Linked DNA regions of Homo sapiens: region 1 is linked to region 2. The links come from fine-mapping of genetic effects on gene expression. A gene starts in region 2. The other region holds a variant in brackets. All regions are shown on one strand. Distances are from middle to middle. Region 1 holds the start of DNASE1L2 (deoxyribonuclease 1 like 2). Region 2 holds the start of BRICD5 (BRICHOS domain containing 5).

Region 1 (5,357 bases), 28 kb after region 2:
TCCCTCCTAGGGGGCTGGCAGGGGCTTCTGGGACGGTTTTGGGACAGGTCTGGGGCACCAGAACCGGCTCAGGCAGGTCTCCCACCCCTTACCCTGGGGGTCTCCATGGGAATGAAAGCCAGGAGTTCATCAGGCACCCAGCTGAGTCGAGGGGGCGGGACCCAGTGCAGCCCGGCCCCTCCCTGGCCCAGGACCTCAAATACCGGCCCCTGCCTTGGTGCCAGAGCTACTGCCAGAGGGAGTCAGTGCAGTCCTGTGTCGGACACGCCCGCAGCCTGGACCCGGGATCCCCATCCCCCTAGGATCTCTGAGCCTCGGGCCTCTGCACCCACATCCAAGGTGAGTCTCTCGGCTGCCCTGAGCTGGGGCTGGATGGGCCGGACCCTCCATTCCGGCTGCAGCTTCCCGCGCAGTGAGAAGGCAGCGGTCCCTGAGAGCCCAGCAGTGCCCTGGGAGCCTGCAGAACGCAGGGGCGGATTCCGCGTCGCACTGGCCGTCAAGGGGCGGCCGCGGAGGGAAGGGGTGGGTCGGTGGGTCTGACAGCGGGTCTGCGTAGGCGGCAGCGTCTGTCCCTCCCAGCCTCTCGCTCCGCGCCATGGGCGGGCCCCGGGCTCTGCTGGCCGCACTCTGGGCGCTGGAAGCCGCCGGGACCGCCGCGCTTCGCATCGGAGCCTTCAACATTCAGAGCTTCGGTGACAGCAAAGTGTCGGACCCCGCTTGCGGCAGCATCATCGCGAAGGTGGGGCCCGGGCCGGGGCGGGGCGGCGTTTAGGGGTGCTGACCGCGCTGACCCCCGCACCCGCCGCTCCTCCCCAGATCCTGGCTGGCTATGACCTCGCGCTGGTGCAGGAGGTGCGAGACCCAGACCTCAGCGCCGTGTCCGCGCTCATGGAGCAGATCAACAGGTGTGGTGGGCAGGGCCCCTCGTCGCGACCCCCCGCCGGGATCTCGCCCCGGCGCGGCGCCCCGACCCTGAGCGGGCCCCTGTCTCCGCAGCGTGTCCGAGCACGAGTACAGCTTTGTGAGCAGCCAGCCCCTGGGCCGGGACCAGTACAAGGAGATGTACCTGTTCGTGTACAGGTGAGGGGCGGGCCGCAGGGAGGGGCGCGCGGGGCCGCAGGTCGGGGGCTCAGCGGGTCCTCCCCATCTCCTAGGAAAGACGCGGTGTCGGTCGTGGACACCTACCTGTACCCAGACCCCGAGGACGTCTTCAGCCGCGAGCCCTTCGTGGTCAAGTTCTCGGCCCCCGGCACCGGTGAGCGGGCCCCGCCCCTCCCCTCCCGCCGAGCTCTGACGCCCCCACCCCTTCCCGCAGCAGCACAGAACCTGGTGCTGATCCCGCTGCACGCGGCGCCGCATCAAGCCGTGGCGGAGATCGACGCGCTCTACGACGTGTACCTGGACGTGATCGACAAGTGGGGCACCGACGTAAGCCCACCCCTCGGTCCCGGGGTCCCTGCAGGCGCGCCCCGGGGGTCTGGTTCATGAGGGCGGGACCTCGACGGCTCCTGCGGCGGCTCAGACACGGCTCCGCGGCGCCCGCAGGACATGCTGTTCCTGGGCGACTTCAACGCCGACTGCAGCTATGTGCGGGCGCAGGACTGGGCCGCCATCCGTCTGAGGAGCAGTGAGGTCTTCAAGTGGCTCATCCCTGACAGCGCCGACACCACGGTGGGCAACTCAGACTGCGCCTACGACCGCATTGTGGCCTGTGGCGCCCGCCTGCGCCGGAGCCTGAAGCCCCAGTCGGCCACCGTGCACGACTTCCAGGAGGAATTCGGCCTGGACCAGACTCAGGCGAGTGGGCCGTGGGGCGGTGCTGGTCTTGGGTCCCCACCGCCCGGGCGCACGCAGGCAGCAGGGAGGGTCCAGCGCCCAAGGCAGGGCCACCTCAGCTTCCTCCCTGCACCAGGGCTCGTTTCCAAGGACCCTGGAGAGCCCGGCCCACCCCATGTGGAGCTCTGGGCAGGCAGGGTACCTTGCCTTTCCCTCAAAGGGCCAGTGGTGACACCCTCTGCCCCGGCCCCTGCCCCTGCCCCACCGCAGGCAGCAGCAGGGGTGGGCACCCAGGCCTCACCGGCCCCTCCCATCCCTGTGGGTGGGGTGCACTTTTCCCCTGAGGCTCACTCTGTCCCCACAGGCTCTTGCCATCAGCGACCACTTTCCAGTGGAGGTGACCCTCAAGTTCCACCGATGACTCGAGGCCTGGCTGGGGCATGCCACCTGCAGACCCTGGCTCTGAGGAATGGCCCAACAGTGGCCCCTTCAGGGTGGCAGCCACCCTTCAGTGAGGCCCCAAGGCAGAGTCGGCTGGGCGTGGACCAGGGGCCATGGACACGTGATGTGCTGCTCTGTACCTCCGTTCCCCATCTGTGGGACGGGCTGCATCCAGCGACCTCATGGGGTGTTGTGAGCCCCATGAGGGGTGCAGGGGGCACTGCCCGGCAGATGTCTGCTCAATAAATGAGCTGCTCCCGGTCGGGCCCCACAGCTTGGCTCCCAGGCCTCTGTCCTTCCTTAGGACCCAGCCTCAGCTCCTTAGGGGCAGCCATGGCCTGGGCTGCCCACCCCATGTCCTGGTGGGACGTGGCTGCCCCCGGAGCCTGCTGGCCCCAGAAGGCAGCTCAGGGATGCTCCTTGCTCATCCTCTGTGGAAACTACAAACACTCCCAGGAGCCTGTACTGTGAGCACAGCTGGGACAGGGATGGCGCCAACACACCAGCCTCCTGGGCCCTCGGGGCTCTCAGAACAGCTCTCCCCAGGCCCACCCCGCAGCCCCCATTCCAGGGCCCTGCAGGGGCCCCCAGGCACTTGTCTGTCTCAAGAGCCCGGTCTTACCCAGCACTGCAAGGGGAGGCCAGCCCCAGCTAGTCAGCAGCCCTGGAGCTTTTGGAGAGCCTGAGAGCAGTGGGCGGGCTGGACTCCTCCCTGCCCAGGCAGGTGGCTTGGGACTAAGGTCCCGTGCAAAGAACCGCCCAGCTCGCCGTGGCTCAGCCCTTCAAGGCTGCTGCCCTGTGCCTGGGCAAGGACACATTAGGATAGGGAAAAGGCAGGCCCACGGGTCCACTGGGTCACTGACTGGGGCCCGATGAGGTTTCTGGTTTTTGAAACATCACATCTTAGCAAGATGTGGTAACTTGGTCTGAATCGCATGGGAGGAAAAACCTTTGTTTCAAGGGTTTGGATGAGTTTGGTTCTTGCAAAATCCTTCTTAAGGGACATTTGGATCCC[T/G]GGCAGCACAGCTGCCTCCAGAGTCCCACTCCCGCTGGCTCAGGATCCCCCAGTTGCTCTGATTCACTGTGCGCTCTTCATCCTGATGAGTAAGGGCAGTGACCAAAGGGCTTTTCCCTGGGGAGTTCTGTGTGGGTCATGGGGGCCAAGACCACCTGGCCTTACACCTAAGAGCAGGCAGTCCAAAGGCCAGAATGGATGACCAGGGACTTGACTTACGATTCTGCCTTGGGAACAGAGACACTCCGTGGCAACCTCACCAGGTCCAGAATGGCATCCCCTGCCAGTCACAATCCCAAGTCAAAAGGCTGCCCTCCAACTCCCCTTGCCTGACGGGCACAGGCACCCATGTGTGTTTGTGTGTGGCTGGGCCTTGGGCCACTGGGCTATGAGGAACAGGAACTTCTACGTAACATCAGCAAAATGAAACGCTGGCAGTACTTTTAAGTTGAAAAATACCTTGTTTAAGACCTCCCTGGGACCCACAGGGGCACGTGTGGCCGTAAGCCTGTGGCAGCCCAATCGTTAGCCTTTTTCTTCTTTGAGCCTCTCTAAGTACATCTGCAGGGACTTCTGGATGGAGTCTTTGGAGATGAAGCTGACGAAGTTCTGCACGTCCGCATCGCGCTGCGTGACCAGGCGGCTGGCCGTGGCCTTTCGCATCATGGCCTTGGTCAGCTGTCGAGCATGGTCTAAAGAGAATGGGACGTGCCACTGAAATCCCACTTTCAGGGGCAGTGGGGTGATTCCCAACTTATTTTTTATTTTTATTTTTTGAGACGGAGTCTTGCTCTGTCGCCCAGGCTGGAGTGCAATGGTGGGATCTTGGCTCACTGCAACCTCCGCCTCCCGAGTTCAAGTGATTCTCCTGCCTCAGCCTCTTGAGTAGCTGGGATTACAACCGTGTGCCACCACACCCGGCTAATTTTGTATTTTTAGTAGAGATGGGATTTCCTCATGTTGGCCAGGCTGGTCCCGAACTCCTGACCTCAGGTGATCCACCCATCTCGGCCTCCCCAAGTGCTGGGATTCCAGGCATGAGCCAGCACGCCCGGCCCTAATTTTTTTTTGTTTTGTTTTGTTTTTAAAGAGACAGGATATTCTCTGTCGCCCATACTGGAGTGCACTAGTGATCACGACTCACTGCAGCCTTGAATCCCTGGGCTCAGGTGATCCTCTCACCTCAGCCTCCTGAGTAGCTGGGACTACAGGCGTGCACACACATCCTGGCTAATTTTGTATTATTTATTTATTTATTTTTGAGATGGAGTCTGTCTCTGCCACCCAGGCTGGACTACAGTGGCGTGACCTTGGCTCACTGCAACCTCCGCCTCCCAAGTTCAAGCACTTCTCCTGCCTCAGCCTCCTGAGTAGCTGGGATTACAGGAGCATTACCATGCCCGGCTAATTTTTGTATTTTTAGTAGAGAAGGGGTTTCACCATGTTGGTCAGGCTGATCTCGAACTCCTGACCTCAGGTGATCCACCCTCCTTGGCCTCCCAAAGTGCCGGGATTGCAGGTGTGAGCCACCGCGCCCAGCGACTTAACGTGTCATTTTCACTCAACTATATTATGAAGAATATTTCCACGACGCAGGAGGCTGAGGCAGGAGAATGGCACGAACCCAGGAGGTGGAGGTTGCAGTGAGCTGAGATCGCACCACTGCACTCCAGCCTGAGCAAGAGGGAGACTCCATCTCAAAAAAAATAAATAAAATAAAAATAAAAAAATTTCCATGGCACTATATTAAATACTGTCTTACAGCACAGGAAATGGCAGCACAGCCTTCAGTCATTTGTATCAGGGTTGGCAAATCTGGCTTCTCAAGGCCCTGAAGCTATGAATAGTTTTTACTTTTTTTGAGAGGAGTCTCACTCTGTCGTCCTGGCTGGAGCGCAGTAGCATGATCTTGGCTCACTGCAACCTCCGCCTCCCAGGTTCAAGTGATTCTCCGGCCTCAGCCTTCCCAAGTAGCTGGGATTACAGGTACCTGCCCCCACACCCGGCTAATTTTTGTATTTTTAGTAGAGACGGGGTTTTGCCATGTTGGCCAGGCTGGTCTAAAACTCCTGACCTCAGGTGATCCGCCCACCTTGGCCTCTCAAAGTGCTGGGATTACAGGCTT
Region 2 (5,357 bases):
CGTGACGGTCCTCCTGACCTCTAGGGAAACTGCTATGTCTGGAATCTGACGGGGGGCATTGGTGACGAGGTGACCCAGCTCATCCCCAAGACTAAGATCCCTGCCCACACGCGCTACGCCCTGCAGTGTCGCTTCAGCCCCGACTCCACGTGCGTGCAGGGCCTGCTGGCCCGGGAGGGGACCTGCCTGGGCTGGGGGCTGGAGAGGGGAGGGGCTGCTGGATGGAGTGGCTGCTGCTGGACACGCCCCATGCCCACCCACTAGGCTCCTCGCCACCTGCTCGGCTGATCAGACGTGCAAGATCTGGAGGACGTCCAACTTCTCCCTGATGACGGAGCTGAGCATCAAGAGCGGCAACCCCGGGGAGTCCTCCCGCGGCTGGATGTGGGGCTGCGCCTTCTCGGGGGACTCCCAGTACATCGTCACTGGTGAGCCCCGCCCTGGCCTCCCCCATCCCTGGCCCCCGGCGCTGGCCTCCAGAGCCAGCCCACCTCGGCTGCAGCTTCCCCTCTGCTGGGGCCGCCTGCTTGGCCTGCACCTGCGCTCTTAGCCCTGCACAATCTCCCCCTCCAGCTTCCTCGGACAACCTGGCCCGGCTCTGGTGTGTGGAGACTGGAGAGATCAAGAGAGAGTATGGCGGCCACCAGAAGGCTGTTGTCTGCCTGGCCTTCAATGACAGTGTGCTGGGCTAGCCTGTGACCCCTCGGGACTGCCTGGTGCAGGTGGTGGCAGCTGGAGGGACCCATGCAGCACCCAGGTCAGAGCAGACCCTCCCCTGCCGGCCTGCGCCAGCTGGACCTGATGGCCCCCTGTGGCGCCTTGACCTGCTGGGCCAGGCTGCCCTGGGACTCTCAGCCCCCAGTTGCTTATCCAGATGTGACAGAGCTCGACCCAAGCCAGGCTGCACACTCCTGGACTGGGCTAGCCTGCACTGCCTGGGAAAGTCGGCCGAGGGCCCAAAGCTGCTGAGGGGTCTGAGGCTGGTGCCCACCCCCAAGCTAGTGTGTTCTCTGCCCCTCCCTGCCCGCGTTTCAGGGCCTCGGTCCATAGAGAACACCACCACCATGGCCAGGTGGAAGGGTTTATTAGTCCCTGCCAGCAGCTGTCCTCCCTGGTGCAGGTGGCCTGGCCAGCCCACTGGATTGGGGACGGGCCAGGCTGGGCCAGGTCGGGGGCTCAGTCTGGGAGGTAATAAAAGCAGACCGACACGCAGATGTTGCTCGGGAAGCAGATGTCGATGCAGAGATAAATCAGCCGCTGTCTCCGGGGCCCTGTGGCGAGGGTGCCGTGAATCTCCAAGGGCTCCGCCCCCAGCTCCTCAAACCATCCCGAGGGCCTGGCCTTCCCCCACAGCGGTCCTGACTCACCCTCTGCTCGCCGGGCCCAGTAGATGGGGGTCCTCATGCACAGGCGCTGCACCAAAGCCCCCGCCTGGGCGGGGTCCACTTCGAGGCTCCCCTGCACTGCCAGCAGCTCCTGGGTGTGGTGGGTGTCCTGGCTGGGGACCCAAGCCTCTTGGACCTGTTGAGAAGGCTCTGGTGGGCGGTGGGACAGGGCTGCTCCCTGCTCCTGGCTTGGCAGGGCCGGGTACCCTCCAACCCCCAGTGATGTCCCCACCCTCAGCTCTTGTCAGCAGCCTGGGCTTAGGGCGGAGAGAGCTTCCTGTTCCCTGAAACCACAGCTCCAGCCTGTCCCGTACTGGGCTGCACACAGGACCCTTTGTCTAGCCCCTGGCCCGGGCCTGCGCCCAGCAGGACGGCTCACCTTGGAGGTATCCACCAGCAGCCGCAGGGTCTCCCGATCACTGTCCTCCATCAGGCGGAGGAAGCAGACCTGGTGCTCCTCAGGGCGGTAACAGATGCAGCCCTGGGGAGGCAGGGGGGTGAGGCGGGGCCCCCCAGACCGACACCTGCCAGGGTGACCCCTCCCTGCCCACTCACGCTCTGCCCGTCGAACAGCACCGCCCAGCTGTGGTTGCTCTGAGGTGGGGTCACTGTGATGGTCGCCGCGTTCCGGGCCACGTCCACCAGGATGGTTTGGTTGGGCCGGGGCATGTGGGGGCTCGGGAGGGTCATTCGCAGCGTCTGCAGCCTTGGCTGGCAGTGGGAGTTGGAGTTCAGCCGGGCAGCTGTGCAACCCCAGCACAGCCTCCAGCTCTGGGCTGCAGGACTCCTGACACCCCTGAGTGGGCCCTTCCACCCCTTGGTCCTCTGGCTGTCTGCTCCTAGGTGGTGTCACTGCCTGCTCCGCACCCTTGCTCTGCTGGAGGCTGGGATATGCCAGCTTCCCTTCTCCCTTTCCACTGTCCATGTCCCTGGTGCTGAGGAGGGGCTCACCTTGGGAGGGCCCTGAGCAGAGCCAAGAAGCCCTCCAGCCACAACCCCCACAGCGGCCAGCACCAGCAGCAGCAGCAGCAGGAGCAGGCTCACGGCTCTCCAGCCCCCGCAGGAGGGCTTGGTCTTCACCTGGGCGTGCATCAGGGTCAGAAGGGTCATGAGGGTTAGACATCAGGGAGCAAGTGGGCTGGGGAAGGGAGGGGCTGGGTGGCCTGGGGCACCCCCTGGGTCCTTGCTGCAGGAGTAACGGGAGGCACTCACCCCTGTAGGCCCAGGTTTGGGGCGCTCAGCACAGCAGCTTGCTGGTTCCATCCTGCAGCCCCTGCTCACAATGTGCCGATTGTCTGCGTCCCTTGTCTGCAGCCTTGGCCAGGGGAAACTCAGAACAGAACCCCTCCCCTCCTGACCCTGCGCCTCCCCCTCAGCTCTGGATCTGATATCCAGGTCAGAGCCAGGACAGCCCCTCCTCCCACCTGGGGGATGCCTGTCACCAGGCCCGGCTCCAGACACCTGGCCTGTGCAGACTGGAGCTCAGGGTCTGGGAGGCGTAGGGCTCGGCCGCGTGGAAATCCAGTCCGGCTGACCGACTGGAGGGCAGCCCAGGCCCGGCCAGGGTGACTCGCTAAGTGTGGTTGGGGTGGATTTCGTTTTCCTAAAGTGGCCTGAGTCTGTCAGGTTATCCTTGACTCCCAGAGTTGGGCACAGGGCCTGACACGCCACAAGCTGTCAATACGTGCCTGTTCAGTGAATGACAGGTGTGGGACTGTGCACCCCCAGCCACTTCCCAGCCCCCGCACACCCAAGACCGGGGGTTCCTGAAGCCTGGACCACAGACAGGCAGCCTGCTGGAGCCTGTGCCCCTGGGACAGTCAGGCCAGCCTCGGGGGCCCGCCTAGCCCAACTTTTTTTTTTTTGAGACGGAGTCTCGCTGTGTCCCCCAGGCTGGAGTGCAGTGGCGTGATCTCAGCTCACTGCAACCTCTGCCTCCCGGGTTCACACAATTCTCATGCCTCAGCCTCCCTAGTAGCTGGGATTACAGATACATGCCACCAAGTCCCGCTAATTTTTGTATTTTTAGTAGAGATGGGTTTTCACCATTTTGGCCAGGCTGGTCTTGAACTCCTGATCTCAAGTAATCCACCTGCCTCAGCCTTCCAAAGCGTTGGGATTACGGGTGTGAGCCACTGCGCCCGGGCCAGCATTACTTCTGAGCTCTGCTCCCTGCCCTGGGCGCTCTGACACGGCAGCCCACCAGCTTCACTCCAGGGCCCTTTGCTTCCCTGGCTTCCCTTTGTGCCTGGCTTTCCCTCATTCTTCAAAACATCTTCCTCTGAACCAGGCTGGGAGTGGGCAGTTGGCATTCCAGCTCTGGAGTTGGAACCCCAGTTACCCATCTACTTTGAGTCCTCCCACCCGTGGTGAGACGGCATCACCCGGGCCAATGCAAGGTGAGAGCAAGGACACCTGAGCCAGTGTGGGTTTGAGAGTTTAATCTGTGCTCTGGCGCCCACAGTGCTGCAGCCCCTCATGGGCCAGAGACAGGATGCACGGGGACTCCCAGCCCCTACCCGGCAAGAGAGGCATCACTGAGGCTGCATCTGCCATGCGCTCCTGGTGTGACTGCACCCTGTCAGGCCAGACCCGGCTTGAGCCAACTTAGCCAAGCCAGCGTCAGTGTCACCAGCCTCATGGGTGGAGCCACCCTCATGCTGCTCTGCAGCACCCTCTGAACCCGATATCCCAGGCCTGGGAGGTGCTGAAGGCTCAGGACGCCTCTTATTGCTCTGAAGTCTTTGTGACCAAGTGGAGTGCTGTGACTGTGGGGCCAAGAGAGAAGCTGCCAGGTACAGGGAAAGGCGCTGGTAGGGAGCCAGCCAGAAGGTGCAGCATCCCGGGATGGCCCTGCTGAGTCTGCTGTCAGGCCTGTGAAAGGTCAGCAGAGCCAAGGAGCAGGCAGGAGAGGCTGGAGCCCCGCCCAGAACCTTGGCGAGCTGGTGGCCCTGCCAAGTCCTGCTGGCCACTGAAGAGGGAATCCAGGGCAAGGCAGGTGACCTCCTGGGCCACCAGTCTCTAACCCCTACCCCAGCCTAGGGAAGGGGAGGACAGGAAGAGACTGGATGCTTTGTAAAGGACTTCCTGTTCTTGGGGACATAACTCTCGTCCCCTCCCAGAGCCCTGGATGACTGACAGGCATTCCTTGGCCAACACATGCTTGAGCCGCGCTGCTGGCTGCAGGGCACCTGGATGACAGGCATTCCTTGGCCAACACATGCTTCAGCCGCGCTGCCGGCTGCAGGGCACAGAGGCTCCTTCAGTGGAATTTTGCCTACGACACAGAGCACAGCTATTAATACACTTAAAATTCAAATCCATTGCCTGACACAGTTGTTCAAAGTTAAAAACTGGTAGCAGCACTGCTCTGAGCTCCCTGCACTGCAGCCCGGAGTTCAGTGAAGGCGTCCACGCCATGGTAGCTGCTCCGTCCAAATCACCTGGGTATAAATGCACACTTGAGACAGCAGAGCTTTAGCTGGGCTGCGTTTACAGAACTGGGCAGCAGCCCTGGGTATCTGAAACGGAACAGACACTCAGTTGTGACATCAGAGTGGTTTTCAAGGAAGTAAGGGAGGTGGGAGAGTGGTGAGGGCAGCACTTTGCACCCAAGGGCAGGGAGATGCCACCTGGGAGCAGCCGCCTCCTCCACTCCCACCCTGCTGGGAGGCACAGGGACACAGAAGGCTCCGCTGGACTTTCAGTCATACTGATGGGGCTCTGGTCCATGCAAGCCTCTCCCAACAGTCAGAATAATCAGTCCCTCTGCCCCCTGAGGGGCTGGATCCCTGAATGAGTTTTTCAATAAAATACAGGACACACACCCCTAGACCCGCCTCAGTCCCATCGGCAGGCCCTGGTTACCTGAATCCCGGACAGGTGCAGAGCCTGCCCCTGCCAACCCCACCCAAGGCCCAGAACCCAGCCCACAACGCCTTCCAAGCCTAAAAGTGCATCTTCGATTACAAG

Evidence for each region. PIP is the estimated chance that this variant, and not a neighbour inherited with it, causes the effect. A credible set is the group of variants that fine-mapping cannot tell apart.
Region 1: its variant is the best candidate, but not a certain one, in a credible set for the expression of BRICD5 in cerebellum (GTEx, PIP 0.60).

Annotation. Positions count from the first base shown.
Region 1 is chr16:2,236,222-2,241,578 of GRCh38, forward strand. DNASE1L2 (deoxyribonuclease 1 like 2) reads left to right here and starts at 223. Exons shown (of 7, transcript NM_001374.3): 1 at 223-339; 2 at 557-739; 3 at 817-905; 4 at 997-1,080; 5 at 1,155-1,428; 6 at 1,546-1,797; 7 at 2,141-2,490. The coding sequence starts at 596. The coding sequence ends at 2,197. It overlaps ECI1 (enoyl-CoA delta isomerase 1), which reads right to left. Exons shown (of 7, transcript NM_001919.4): 7 at 3,181-3,924. The coding sequence ends at 3,758. It overlaps ECI1-AS1 (ECI1 antisense RNA 1), which reads left to right and starts at 4,323. Exons shown (of 2, transcript NR_186393.1): 1 at 4,323-4,869. The variant T/G (reference allele first, on the strand shown) is at 3,233.
Region 2 is chr16:2,208,186-2,213,542 of GRCh38, forward strand. It overlaps BRICD5 (BRICHOS domain containing 5), which reads right to left and starts at 2,678. Exons shown (of 6, transcript NM_182563.4): 1 at 2,598-2,678; 2 at 2,337-2,465; 3 at 1,941-2,096; 4 at 1,765-1,866; 5 at 1,368-1,521; 6 at 1,068-1,271. The coding sequence starts at 2,648. The coding sequence ends at 1,177. It overlaps MLST8 (MTOR associated protein MLST8), which reads left to right. Exons shown (of 9, transcript NM_022372.6): 7 at 25-149; 8 at 265-428; 9 at 574-1,268. The coding sequence ends at 692. PGP (phosphoglycolate phosphatase) reads right to left here. Exons shown (of 2, transcript NM_001042371.3): 2 at 3,408-5,357. RefSeq lists a silencer at 1,933-2,123 and enhancers at 3,563-4,376, 4,263-4,557, 4,377-5,190.